Linked DNA regions of Homo sapiens. The protein of the gene in region 3 interacts with the protein of the main gene of each other region in a biochemical or structural test. Each region holds a gene or a part of one and is shown on either strand. Other genes may lie near its edges. The genes, in order: LATS1, MAP4K1 and MAP3K11.

Evidence for each region.
Region 1: the proteins of MAP3K11 (region 3) and LATS1 form a complex in vitro, tested with the Homo sapiens proteins (one study listed by BioGRID).
Region 2: of the proteins of MAP3K11 (region 3) and MAP4K1, one has a biochemical effect on the other in vitro, tested with the Homo sapiens proteins (one study listed by BioGRID).

What each region holds. Positions count from the first base shown.
Region 1 is NC_000006.12:149,683,389-149,687,138, reverse strand, and holds part of LATS1 (serine/threonine-protein kinase LATS1), read left to right. Parts: intron 1-2,546; coding exon 2,547-3,750. UniProt on the Homo sapiens protein: Negative regulator of YAP1 in the Hippo signaling pathway that plays a pivotal role in organ size control and tumor suppression by restricting proliferation and promoting apoptosis.
Region 2 is NC_000019.10:38,597,280-38,601,029, reverse strand, and holds part of MAP4K1 (mitogen-activated protein kinase kinase kinase kinase 1), read left to right. Parts: intron 1-876; coding exon 877-953; intron 954-1,044; coding exon 1,045-1,105; intron 1,106-3,435; coding exon 3,436-3,544; intron 3,545-3,634; exon of another isoform or gene 3,635-3,645; coding exon 3,646-3,704; exon of another isoform or gene 3,705-3,750. UniProt on the Homo sapiens protein: Serine/threonine-protein kinase, which plays a role in the response to environmental stress. Appears to act upstream of the JUN N-terminal pathway.
Region 3 is NC_000011.10:65,600,532-65,604,281, reverse strand, and holds part of MAP3K11 (mitogen-activated protein kinase kinase kinase 11), read left to right. Parts: intron 1-3,750. UniProt on the Homo sapiens protein: Activates the JUN N-terminal pathway. Required for serum-stimulated cell proliferation and for mitogen and cytokine activation of MAPK14 (p38), MAPK3 (ERK) and MAPK8 (JNK1) through phosphorylation and activation of MAP2K4/MKK4 and MAP2K7/MKK7.

The DNA.
Region 1 (3,750 bases), on a different chromosome or scaffold from region 3:
AGCCTGGGCGACAGAGCAAGTCTCTGTCTCAAAAAAAAAAAAATAAAAATCTTGGAGATCTTGGTGAGGTTGCTACTTAATAAAGTTTAAAAACTTTTGCAGTAGGAGTAAACAGAAGAAGTAGTTGTGGTCTGGGAGTATAAGCGTATAAACCTTAAAGTAGTTATTCTGAAACAAGAGCAGATATGAGTAATACCAAAGTTTGAAATACAATCATGAGAATGATACTTGATGTGGAGTGGAAGAGGGGACGTCAAGAAGCTGAGATATGAGGGCAATAGATGGTTTATCCTCGTGGTTATTGAGGTTACAGGATGAAGGCAGGGCTTAGGGTAGACTGAATGCTGAAGCTGTGGCTGAATGAAATAGAGCAAATAGGCAGGAGCTCATTAGGTGAGAGGAATTAGTGTGGCCTCCCACATAGCATGAAGTTCAAAAGAGCTGGCTTTTTAAAAGGAATAATATCAACCTGTAAGAACAAATGTTAGAACCCCATCTTTAGGCCAGGTTATTTTTAAAGGAAACCTTAATTTCAAAGGGCTGAAAGGAAAGTAGTATCAGCAGAAGAAAACCAGCTTCAAGGAGGTGGCAGGAAAGCTTGGAGGAGAGGTTACTGATAAGGCACATTTGCTGGCTGTGGAGCCGAGTGGATCCGGAGGGCATGGTGGAAAGGTTCGGGAAGTGGAAGAACATGGAGAGCTCTGTGGGAGGCGCAGAACAACAGGGGTGACTGTATACTCTAAAAGCTGAATGAGTGACATGGTGTATTTGGCCTCAGCTGGCCTCTGAGGAAAGTGAGAAAGAGCCTGATGGCCAGAGGACTTGTCCAGTTTATCCGGAATGATAATGTTCCCCAAACATTATTTACTCACTTGCTTTTCGTCTGGCTCCTGCTTCGAGAATGTAGACCCAAAATGCTGTCCAGCCTAGATGAAAGGGAGTGTTAAACTGAACATTATGAACATTTACCACATTTTACCACTTTTTTTCTCAGATGTATTGTTAGATATATTTTTGCCCAGGATGATGTTGACCTTTCAAATTTATTAGTATTCTTTTTTGTTTTGTTTTTAATGGTAATGAGTGTTTGTATTTAGATCTCTACTTTTGTCATGCCTGGGAAGACATTCGCAAGAGGTACCCCAATACTATTGAATGGTCTTTTGTTTTTTTCTAGTGCTTACATGATTTCATCTTTAATATTTAAACCTTTAGTCTTTCTAGAATGTATATATGTATTGTCTTTATACCAGTGTATCTTGTATATTTTTCCTAAGTGGCTGGACTATTCTATTTTAAATACTTCTCTTTTTTTGGTATTGTATTTTTTTTTTTGCTTGTTTTATTGATTTGGAAATTCCGTTAAAGACAGTTTCTGTAAAATCTATACTTTATTTAATATTCAGCTAATTATAGCCTACTATCTTTTTCTGTTTTAAAAACCATATTAAAAGGCCAGGTGCAGTGGCTCACACCTGTAATCCCAGCACTTTGGAAGGCTTAGGAGGGCAGATCACTTGAGGTCGGGAGTTTAAGACCAGCCTCGCTAACATGGCGAAACCCCGTCTCTACTAAAAATACAAAAGTTAGCTGGGCGTGGTGGCGTGCGCCTGTAGTCCCAGCTACTCAGGAGGCTGAGGAAGGAGAATTACTTGAACCCGGGAGACGGAGGTTGCAGTGAGTCTGTGCCACTGCACTCCAGCCTGGGTGACAGAGTGAGACTTTGTCTCAATTTAAAAATATAGATATATATTAAAATATATTTAAAATCAGTAGAGCTATGAAAATTACAAATAGATACGCCCTTTGGCCTAATAATGCTACCTCTAATAATTTATCTACAAATATACATGCATATATATGAAATTATATCTCTTCAAAAATATATATATATTTTTTTTGAGATGGAGTCTTGCACTGTCACCCAGGCTGGAGTGCAGTGGCACGATCTCAGTTCACTGCAGCGTTGGCCTTCTTGGTTCATGCAATTCTCCTGCCTCAGCCTCCCGAGTGGCTGGGACTACAGGTGCACACCACCACGCCTGGCTAATTTTTTTGTATTTTTAGTAGAAATGGAGTTTCACCATGTTGGCCAGGCTGGTCTCGAACTCCTGGCCTCAAGTGATCTGCCTACCTCAGCCTCCCAAAGTGCTGGGATTACAGGCGTGAGCCACCACGCCTGGTCAAAAATAAATAAAATTCTAAAAGGTAAAAGGAAACCACTTAGTGAAATTTTATTTTTATAACTCTTTTTTTTCTTTTTTTGCTAAATTGAGCCAAATAACATGTATTATTACCTCACATATCATTTTTTTGTAGTGAGAATACTTCAAATTTACTCTCGGCAATTTTCAGGAGTACAATACGTTGTTATTAACTACAGTCACCATTTTGTACAAGAGATCACTTGAACTTTTTTATATTTTTATAATTCTTGAAAGAGAATTGAGTATCATTTGTAATATCAGAATTGCAAGCTAAGGTTTTCAAAAATTAGAGGTTAAAAACATGATTCTTTTTTCTCTTTATCTCTCTTATAACCATAGGGAATGTGCAGCAATCAGTTAACCGCAAACAGAGCTGGAAAGGTTCTAAAGAATCCTTAGTTCCTCAGAGGCATGGCCCGCCACTAGGAGAAAGTGTGGCCTATCATTCTGAGAGTCCCAACTCACAGACAGATGTAGGAAGACCTTTGTCTGGATCTGGTATATCAGCATTTGTTCAAGCTCACCCTAGCAACGGACAGAGAGTGAACCCCCCACCACCACCTCAAGTAAGGAGTGTTACTCCTCCACCACCTCCAAGAGGCCAGACTCCCCCTCCAAGAGGTACAACTCCACCTCCCCCTTCATGGGAACCAAACTCTCAAACAAAGCGCTATTCTGGAAACATGGAATACGTAATCTCCCGAATCTCTCCTGTCCCACCTGGGGCATGGCAAGAGGGCTATCCTCCACCACCTCTCAACACTTCCCCCATGAATCCTCCTAATCAAGGACAGAGAGGCATTAGTTCTGTTCCTGTTGGCAGACAACCAATCATCATGCAGAGTTCTAGCAAATTTAACTTTCCATCAGGGAGACCTGGAATGCAGAATGGTACTGGACAAACTGATTTCATGATACACCAAAATGTTGTCCCTGCTGGCACTGTGAATCGGCAGCCACCACCTCCATATCCTCTGACAGCAGCTAATGGACAAAGCCCTTCTGCTTTACAAACAGGGGGATCTGCTGCTCCTTCGTCATATACAAATGGAAGTATTCCTCAGTCTATGATGGTGCCAAACAGAAATAGTCATAACATGGAACTATATAACATTAGTGTACCTGGACTGCAAACAAATTGGCCTCAGTCATCTTCTGCTCCAGCCCAGTCATCCCCGAGCAGTGGGCATGAAATCCCTACATGGCAACCTAACATACCAGTGAGGTCAAATTCTTTTAATAACCCATTAGGAAATAGAGCAAGTCACTCTGCTAATTCTCAGCCTTCTGCTACAACAGTCACTGCAATTACACCAGCTCCTATTCAACAGCCTGTGAAAAGTATGCGTGTATTAAAACCAGAGCTACAGACTGCTTTAGCACCTACACACCCTTCTTGGATACCACAGCCAATTCAAACTGTTCAACCCAGTCCTTTTCCTGAGGGAACCGCTTCAAATGTGACTGTGATGCCACCTGTTGCTGAAGCTCCAAACTATCAAGGACCACCACCACCCTACCCAAAACATCTGCTGCACCAAAA
Region 2 (3,750 bases), on a different chromosome or scaffold from region 3:
GTTTGAGACCAGCCTGGCCAACGTGGTAAAACCTCGTCTCTACTAAAAACACAAAAATTAGCCAGGCGTGGTAGCACGTGCCTATAATCCCAGCTACTCAGGAGGCTGAGGCAGGATAATTGCTTGAATCCAGGGGGCGGAAGTTGCAGTGAGCTGAGATCATGCCACTGCACTCCAGCCTGGGCAACAGAGCAAGACTCAGTCTCAAAAAAAAAAAAAAAAAAAAAAAATGGGTAGAGGGATGAGTTGGAGAGTGAAAGTAGGAATATTGGAATTCAGGGGCCAGGAGTGTCAGAATATAACAAAAAGGTTAGAGTTTGGAGCACGAGAAAGATGGACAGCTGGAGGTTAATGATAGGGAGACTGGGAGCAGCATTTTGGGGTGAGGAATTTTAGAGATTAGGATGCAGCCAGAAAGGGACAGAATCTAGAGATCAAAGAGATGAAGACAAGGTCAGTGTTAAAGGAACAGGTCACACTGGACAGAAAAAGTCCTGTTTGGGGGTGTCTGAGTTTGAAGGTCAATGTTAGGATTGGCATTAGGGTATCAGAACTGGGGAGAAAGAGGGGAGGAAATCAGAGGACTATTTTGGGGGACAGGTCTAAGGTTGGGGTCAGTTTGGTTCAGAAGACAGTTGGGCAGAGAAGAAAGAACCACCAGAATATGGGTAGTCAAAAGGAGGGAGAGTGAGACTGGCTTGCGGGACCGTCCGCTCTGGCTTTGTTTGGGGAAACAGAGGCTGGGAGTATTGGTTTGGAGAAAGAATAGAGGGTCAGAGCTGGGGACAGAGTGTCAGTGTTTGAGGTCAGACAGGTGGGGATCTGGGAGGTCCCTGAGGATGAAGTCGGTCCCAGCGTCCTTGTCTGTGCCTCCAGACCAGCACCTGCTCCTGGGGGCAGAGGAAGGCATCTTCATCCTGAACCGGAATGACCAGGAGGCCACGCTGGAAATGGTGAGGAACCATACCGGGCCAGGGCAAGGGCAAGGGCCGGAGTCGGGGGTTGCTGGGGTGTCACCAGAGCCATCTCTCCCATTCCCTGCAGCTCTTTCCTAGCCGGACTACGTGGGTGTACTCCATCAACAACGTTCTCATGTCTCTCTCAGGTCTGGCTGTGGGTAGCAGGTGGGATGGGGTCGGAAGTTAAGGGGTCCAAGGGTTCGGGGGCTGGGAAGTAGACGGGCACAGCTGAAAAAAAACTTAGACTGCTTGGTCACAAAGTCCTAGGTTCAAATCCCAGACACTTTTTGACTGTGCTCCCCAAGCCTCAATTTCTCCATTTGTAAAATGGGGTTCACAATAGTCCTCACCTCTCAAGTCAATTTTGAGGTAGTTTCTACAATAAATTAGTCTTTTTTTTTCTTTTTTTGAGACAGAGTCTCCCTCTGTCACTCAGGCTGGAGCGCAGTGGTACAATCTCAGCTCACGGCAACCTCTGCCTCCCAGGTTCAAGTGATTCTCATGCCTCAGCCTCCTGAGTAGCTGGAATTACAGGTGTGCACCACCACACCTGGCTAAATTTTGTATTTTTAGTAGAGACAGAGTTTTACCCTGTTGGCCAGGCTGGTCTCAAACTCCTGACCTCAGGTGATCCAACTGCCTTGGCCTCCCAAAATGCTGGGATTACAGGCATGAGCCACCACACCTGGCCTTAGATTAGCCTTTTTTTTTTTTTTTTTTTTTGAGACCGAGTCTCACTCAGTTGCCCAGGCTGGAGTGCAGGGGCGTGATCTTGGCTAACTGCAACCTCTACTTCCTGGGTTCAAGCAATTCTCGTGCCTCAGCCTCCCGAGTAGCTGGTATTACAGATGTGAGCCATCATGACTGGCTTTTTTTTTTTTTACTTTTTTTATTTTTTATTTTTAGTAGAGATGGGGTTTTACCATGTTGGCCAGGCTGGTCGCAAACTCCTGACCTCAGGTGATCCACCCGCCTTGGCCTCCCAAAGTGCTGGGATTACAGGTGTGGGCCACCGCACCTGGCCTAAATTAGTCCTTTTTTTTTTTTTTTTTTTTTTTGAGATAGACTCTCACTCTGTTGCCCAGACTGGAGTGCAGTGGCGCAGTCTCGGCTCACTGCAACCTCCGTTTCCCAGGTTCAAGCGATTCTCCTGCCTCACCCTCCCAAGTAGCTGGGATTACAGGCACCTGCCACCACACGCGGCTAATTTTTTGTGTTTTTAGTAGAGACGGGGTTTCGCCATGTTGGCCAGGCTGGTCTCGAACTCCTGACCTGGTGATCCACTCGTCTCAGCCCCCCAAAGTGCTGGGATTACAGGTGTAAGCCACCGTGCCCAGCCCTAAGTTAGTCTTTAAATAGCTTTCATGTTCAGATGACAATCAGAACTTATTCCATACTTTACTAAGATAGAGTGAGCAAGTTATAGATTTCAAAATCTGGACGGGGTGCAGTGGCTCATGCCTGTGATCCCAGCACTTTGAGAGGCCAAGGCAGTAGTACTGCTTGAGCCCAGGAGTTCTAGATCAGCCTGGGCAACATAGTGAGACCTCGTCTCTACTAAAAATTAAAAAAAAATTAGCTGGGTGTGGTGGCACACACCTATGGTTCCAGCTACTCGGGAGGCTGAGGTGGGAGGATCACTTGAGCCCAGAAGTTAGAGGCTGCAGTGAGTCATGATCACACCACTGCACTCCAGCCTGGAAGACAGAATGAGACCCTGTCTATATATAACAATAAATAGGCCGGGTGCGGTGGTTCACACCTGTAATCCCAACACTTTGGGAGGCCGAGGCGGGTAGATCACCTGAGGTCAGTAGTTCGAGACCAGACTGGCCAACATGGTAAAACCCCGTCTCTACTAAAAATACAAAAATTATCCAGGCATGGTGGCGCATACCTCTACTCCCAGCTACTTGGGAGGCTGAGGCATGAGAATTGCTTGAACCTGGGAGGCAGAGGCTGCAGTGAGCCAAGATTATACCACTGCACTCCAGCCTGGGTGACAGAGCGAGACTGTCTAAAATAATAATAATAATAATAAATAAATGAAATAATTTCTAGTTTTGGGGGAAACACCAAGCCAAATGGGATTCATGAGTTAGTGAAAGCCACATCTGTGATGACAAACTAGAAGATTTTCTAGATGTGTTTCTTCTAAAACTTTGTAAGATGTGTAACTTCATCTGACTGGTTATGTGTCCAGAGTTTCTGATACGGCTACAAATACCACGAGGGTAGGGAACATATTTTTTATGCTCATCACTGTTCACCAGAGCCAAGCACAGCAGGCCTGGCCTACAATGGACGTTCAATCTATGTGGAGTGAGAAATGAATGAATGAATGACAAGTACTTGAGACTTGCAGGCTTGGGAGTTTCAGACAAAGGGATGGGGCTGAGGGAAGGGATGGAGGAAAGGAAGTGGTATATGGGATCCTATAACTTCCTGCTTCCCCCTACATACACACACCCTGCAGGAAAGACCCCCCACCTGTATTCTCATAGCATCCTTGGCCTGCTGGAACGGAAAGAGACCAGAGCAGGAAACCCCATCGCTCACATTAGCCCCCACCGCCTACTGGCAAGGTACCAGCTCCCAATGAATGGCACCACACAGCCTTATAATTCCTCCCATGCCCCTCTGCCTCCTGCTGTCCTACCCCCCTTCACACCTACCTATTCTCCAGGAAGAACATGGTTTCCACCAAGATCCAGGACACCAAAGGCTGCCGGGCGTGCTGTGTGGGTGAGAGAGAGCTTCACGGGTGTGCAGAGAGTGGGCGGGGCCAGGC
Region 3 (3,750 bases):
CTCTGGCCCTCAGCTCCCAGAAGCAGGGGCACAAGGGGCCTGGGCCCCATCGTTCTCAAGCTTGCCCCATGTTTTTTTATCCAAAGAATTTGTTAATTATTTATGAAGAGAAACTACTTATTAGCCCATATATTCATGAATAGTTCAGATCAGTGACAAACTTCTAAGTAATTCAACCCAAAGAAATTCTTCATATTCCAAAATCACTTTGCATTCTGAGAGATAGCAGCCTTCCTCATCTCCTCGAAGTATTTCATGGCATCATAACTTCTGTAGACATCTGTGCCCATAGAAATCTGAAATGCCTTCTTTCTTGGTCCAGCCCCTGCAAACTGAGAGAGCCGCAGCCCCCAGGGATACAGTGAATGCTCCCACAATATGAAATTGCAGATGTGTGGCCAGAAGGCCACATGTCTGAGGTTTCATGAAAGCACTGGAAACCATGGTAGTTACTGTTCTTGATAAGTATGTCGGCCTCAACACCAGTGCCCTTCCTGGCTGATGAAGAAATGGATTGCCACTTGCCCTGAAAGGATGTCAGCTGCCCAGCTCAGTGGCTGGCTGAGCATCTGGTTCCCCTAGCCCAATCCCACACTCCACGCATCATCTGGGTCCATGAAAGTACATGACATTGACCTCACAGCCACCCCCCGAAACCCAGCTAAGAATCAAATAATGGGGCTTCACAGAGGTCCCAGACCCTGTGAGATGGTCCCCGGCATAAGCCATACCACTGGAGAGTCACACACACCCTCACCCTGTCCCCAGTGGGCTGTTCTGGTCCCTGGAGAGCTGGCTGCAAGGAGTGGCACATTGGCAGGGTGCACTCAGCTACGCTGATAGCAACTGCCCTGTGAAGCTTGTTGCCTTAGAGCCAATAACTACGTGGCTGTGTCCTCCCTGTGAGACCTCACGGAAGCAGTTTCGCCTCTATCTATCTATCTTTGGGTCAAGAATAGTCACGCAGCTTTCTCCTAAACAACAGAGTTGCTAACTCTTGCTGCCAGGAAGCTTAGAGGCAGATTCAAATCCTAGCTGGATTATGTTGACCAAGTCCCTTACCCTTCAGAACCTCAGTTTCTCAGGCCATTGACTGCAGGAACTTCTGTTCACTCTCATTTTGTCTGCTGGACCCTATCTTCTCTTCCCTTTGTCTCATTTCTGTCTTTTATTTTTTTAAAGATAGAGTCTCATTCTGTTACCCAGGCTGGACTGCAATGGCATGATCATGGCTCACTGCAAACTCTGCCTCCCAGGCTCAAGTGATCCTCCCACCTCAGCTTCCTGAGTAGCAGGGACTACAGGTGCATGCCATGCTTGGCTAATTTTTATATTTTTTGTAGAGATGGGGTTTTGCCATGTTGCCCAGGCTGGGCTGCGCTTAAGTAGTCCACCCACCCCAGCCTCCCAAAGTGCTGGCATTACAGGTGTGAGCCACCACACCCAGCTTGCTCTTGCTATTTTCTTTTTTTTTTTTTAGAAGGAGTCTTGTTCTGTCACCCAGGCTGGAGTGCAGTGGTGCGACCTCAGCTCACTTCAGCCTCCACCTCCCACGTTCAAGCAATTCTCCCTCAGCCTCCCCAGTAGCTGGGATTACAGGCATGTGCCACCATGCCCAGCTAATTTTTTTTTTTTTGAGATGAAGTGTCATTCTGTTGCCCAGGCTGGAGGGCAGTGGTGCAATCTCGGCTCACTACAACCTCCACCTCCCAGGTTCAAGTGATTCTCCTGCCTCAGCCTCCCAAGTAGCAGGGATTACAGGCATGTGCCACAATGCCCGGCTAATGTTTGTATTTGTAGTAGAGATGAGGTTTCACCATGTTGACCAGGCTGGTCCCGAACTCCTGACCTCAAGTGAGCCACCTGCTTCAGCTTCCCAAAGTGCTGGGATTACAAGCGTGAACCACCATGCCCGGCCTAATTTTTGTATTTAGTAGAGACAGGGTTTGACCATGTTGGCCAGGCTAGTCATGCACTCCTGACCTCAAGTGATCTGCCCTACTTGGCCTCCCAAAGTGCTGGGATTATAGGCTTGAGCCACCACTCCCAGCCTCTCTTGCTTTTTTTTTTTTTTTTTTTGAGATGGAGTCTCACTCTGTCACCCAGGCTGGAGCGCAGTGGCGGGATCTCGGCTCACTGTAACCTCCGCCTCCTGGGTTCAAGCGATTCTCCTGCCTCAGCCTCCCAAGTAGCTGAGACTACAGGTGCGTGCCACCATGCCCTGCTAATTTTTGTATTTTTTAGTAGAGACAGGGTTTCACCATGTTGGCCAGGATGGTCTCGATTTCTTGACCTCGTGATCCGCCCACCTTGGCCTCCCAAAGTGCTGGGATTACAGGTGTGAGCCACCGCACCCGGCCAACTCTTTCTTTTTTTTAAACATGATTTCCCCTCTTCTGTTTAAACTCACTGTAAATGATCAGTTCTTCACCTGCGAAGTGGGGGTGATATGATAACCTCGTGGTTGGTGCAAGGATTATAAAAATGGATTCTTCATCAAACAAGAATTTGCTTTTTTTTTTTTTTGAGACGGAGTCTCGCTCTGTTGCCCAGGCTGGAGTGCAGTGGTGTGATTTTGGCTCACTGCAAGCTCCGCCTCCTGGGTTCATGCCATTCTCCTGCCTCAGCCTCTTGAGTATCTGGGACTACAGGCGCCCACCACCACGCCTGGCTAATTTTTTGTGTTTTTAGTAGAGACAGGGTTTCACCGTGTTAGCCAGGATGGTCTCGATCTCCTGACCTCGTGATCATCCCACCTGGGCCTCCCAAAGTGCTGGGATTGCAGATGTGAGCCACCGCGCCTGGCCCAGGGATTTGCATTTTAAGAGCCAGGCATCAACATGTTAAACACTGCCCTGACCTCATATGATGAAGCAGGCAGACTCATAAACAAGTCCAGTAGCACCTCTATGAGGCATAACGTGAGCAATAACTGTGTAGGTTCAGGGAGATTCTGGGAGGGCTTCACAGAGGAAGTGACATCCCAGTTGGTCTTGGATGGTGCATAAGAGGTCACTGAAAGCCAAGGTGGGAAAGGTCAGCCACCCAGAGTGAATAGTGTGTGCGCAGGCATGCAGCTCACCATACCCAAGGAAAAGGCAACCTGGCTGAACTCCGAGAAGAGTTGAGAGCCGAGGAGTCTCAGGACTGGGGCTGCGGACAGGGGCCAAGGCACATGGGTCAGTAGATGTTGATTGAATGAATGAGTGAATGAAGCTGGAAGTGATGGGTAGTTTTTAAGCAGAGACCTGTCTTTAACAGGTTTGCATTTTAGAAGGATTCCCTTGTCCCTTCAGTGGCAGTGGCCGGGGTGGGAGTTGGGTGAGGTAAGAGGCAGAGAGTCTGAGTAAGGGTTGGGGCTGACAGAAGGGACTGTGAGCTAAGTCCTGGTTCATAGTAGAAGCTCATTTTTCCCAGCCTTGTATTTCTCCCTCCCGACATCCAACCTGCTGCTGCACTCCAGGCAGGAGGGGAAAGGCAGAGGGACAAGGCCAGGGAGGGCTTCAGAGGACCAGCCAAGGAGGCCAGACTTTCTCCTAGTGACAGTGGAGAGCCACAGCAGTTTCTAGAGCCAAGGAGGGATCTGACAAAATCAGGGCTTGTGAGAGCCCATCCTAGAGTCCCTTGTCCTTAATGAGGGGTTCCCCATCCCTGCCCAAGTGGTCTAGAATGGAGTCAGGCCAACCCTAGACTGGAAGGTAGGACACTAGTGTCTTGAAATCTAGGGCAGAGTCTGGCTGGGAAATGGTG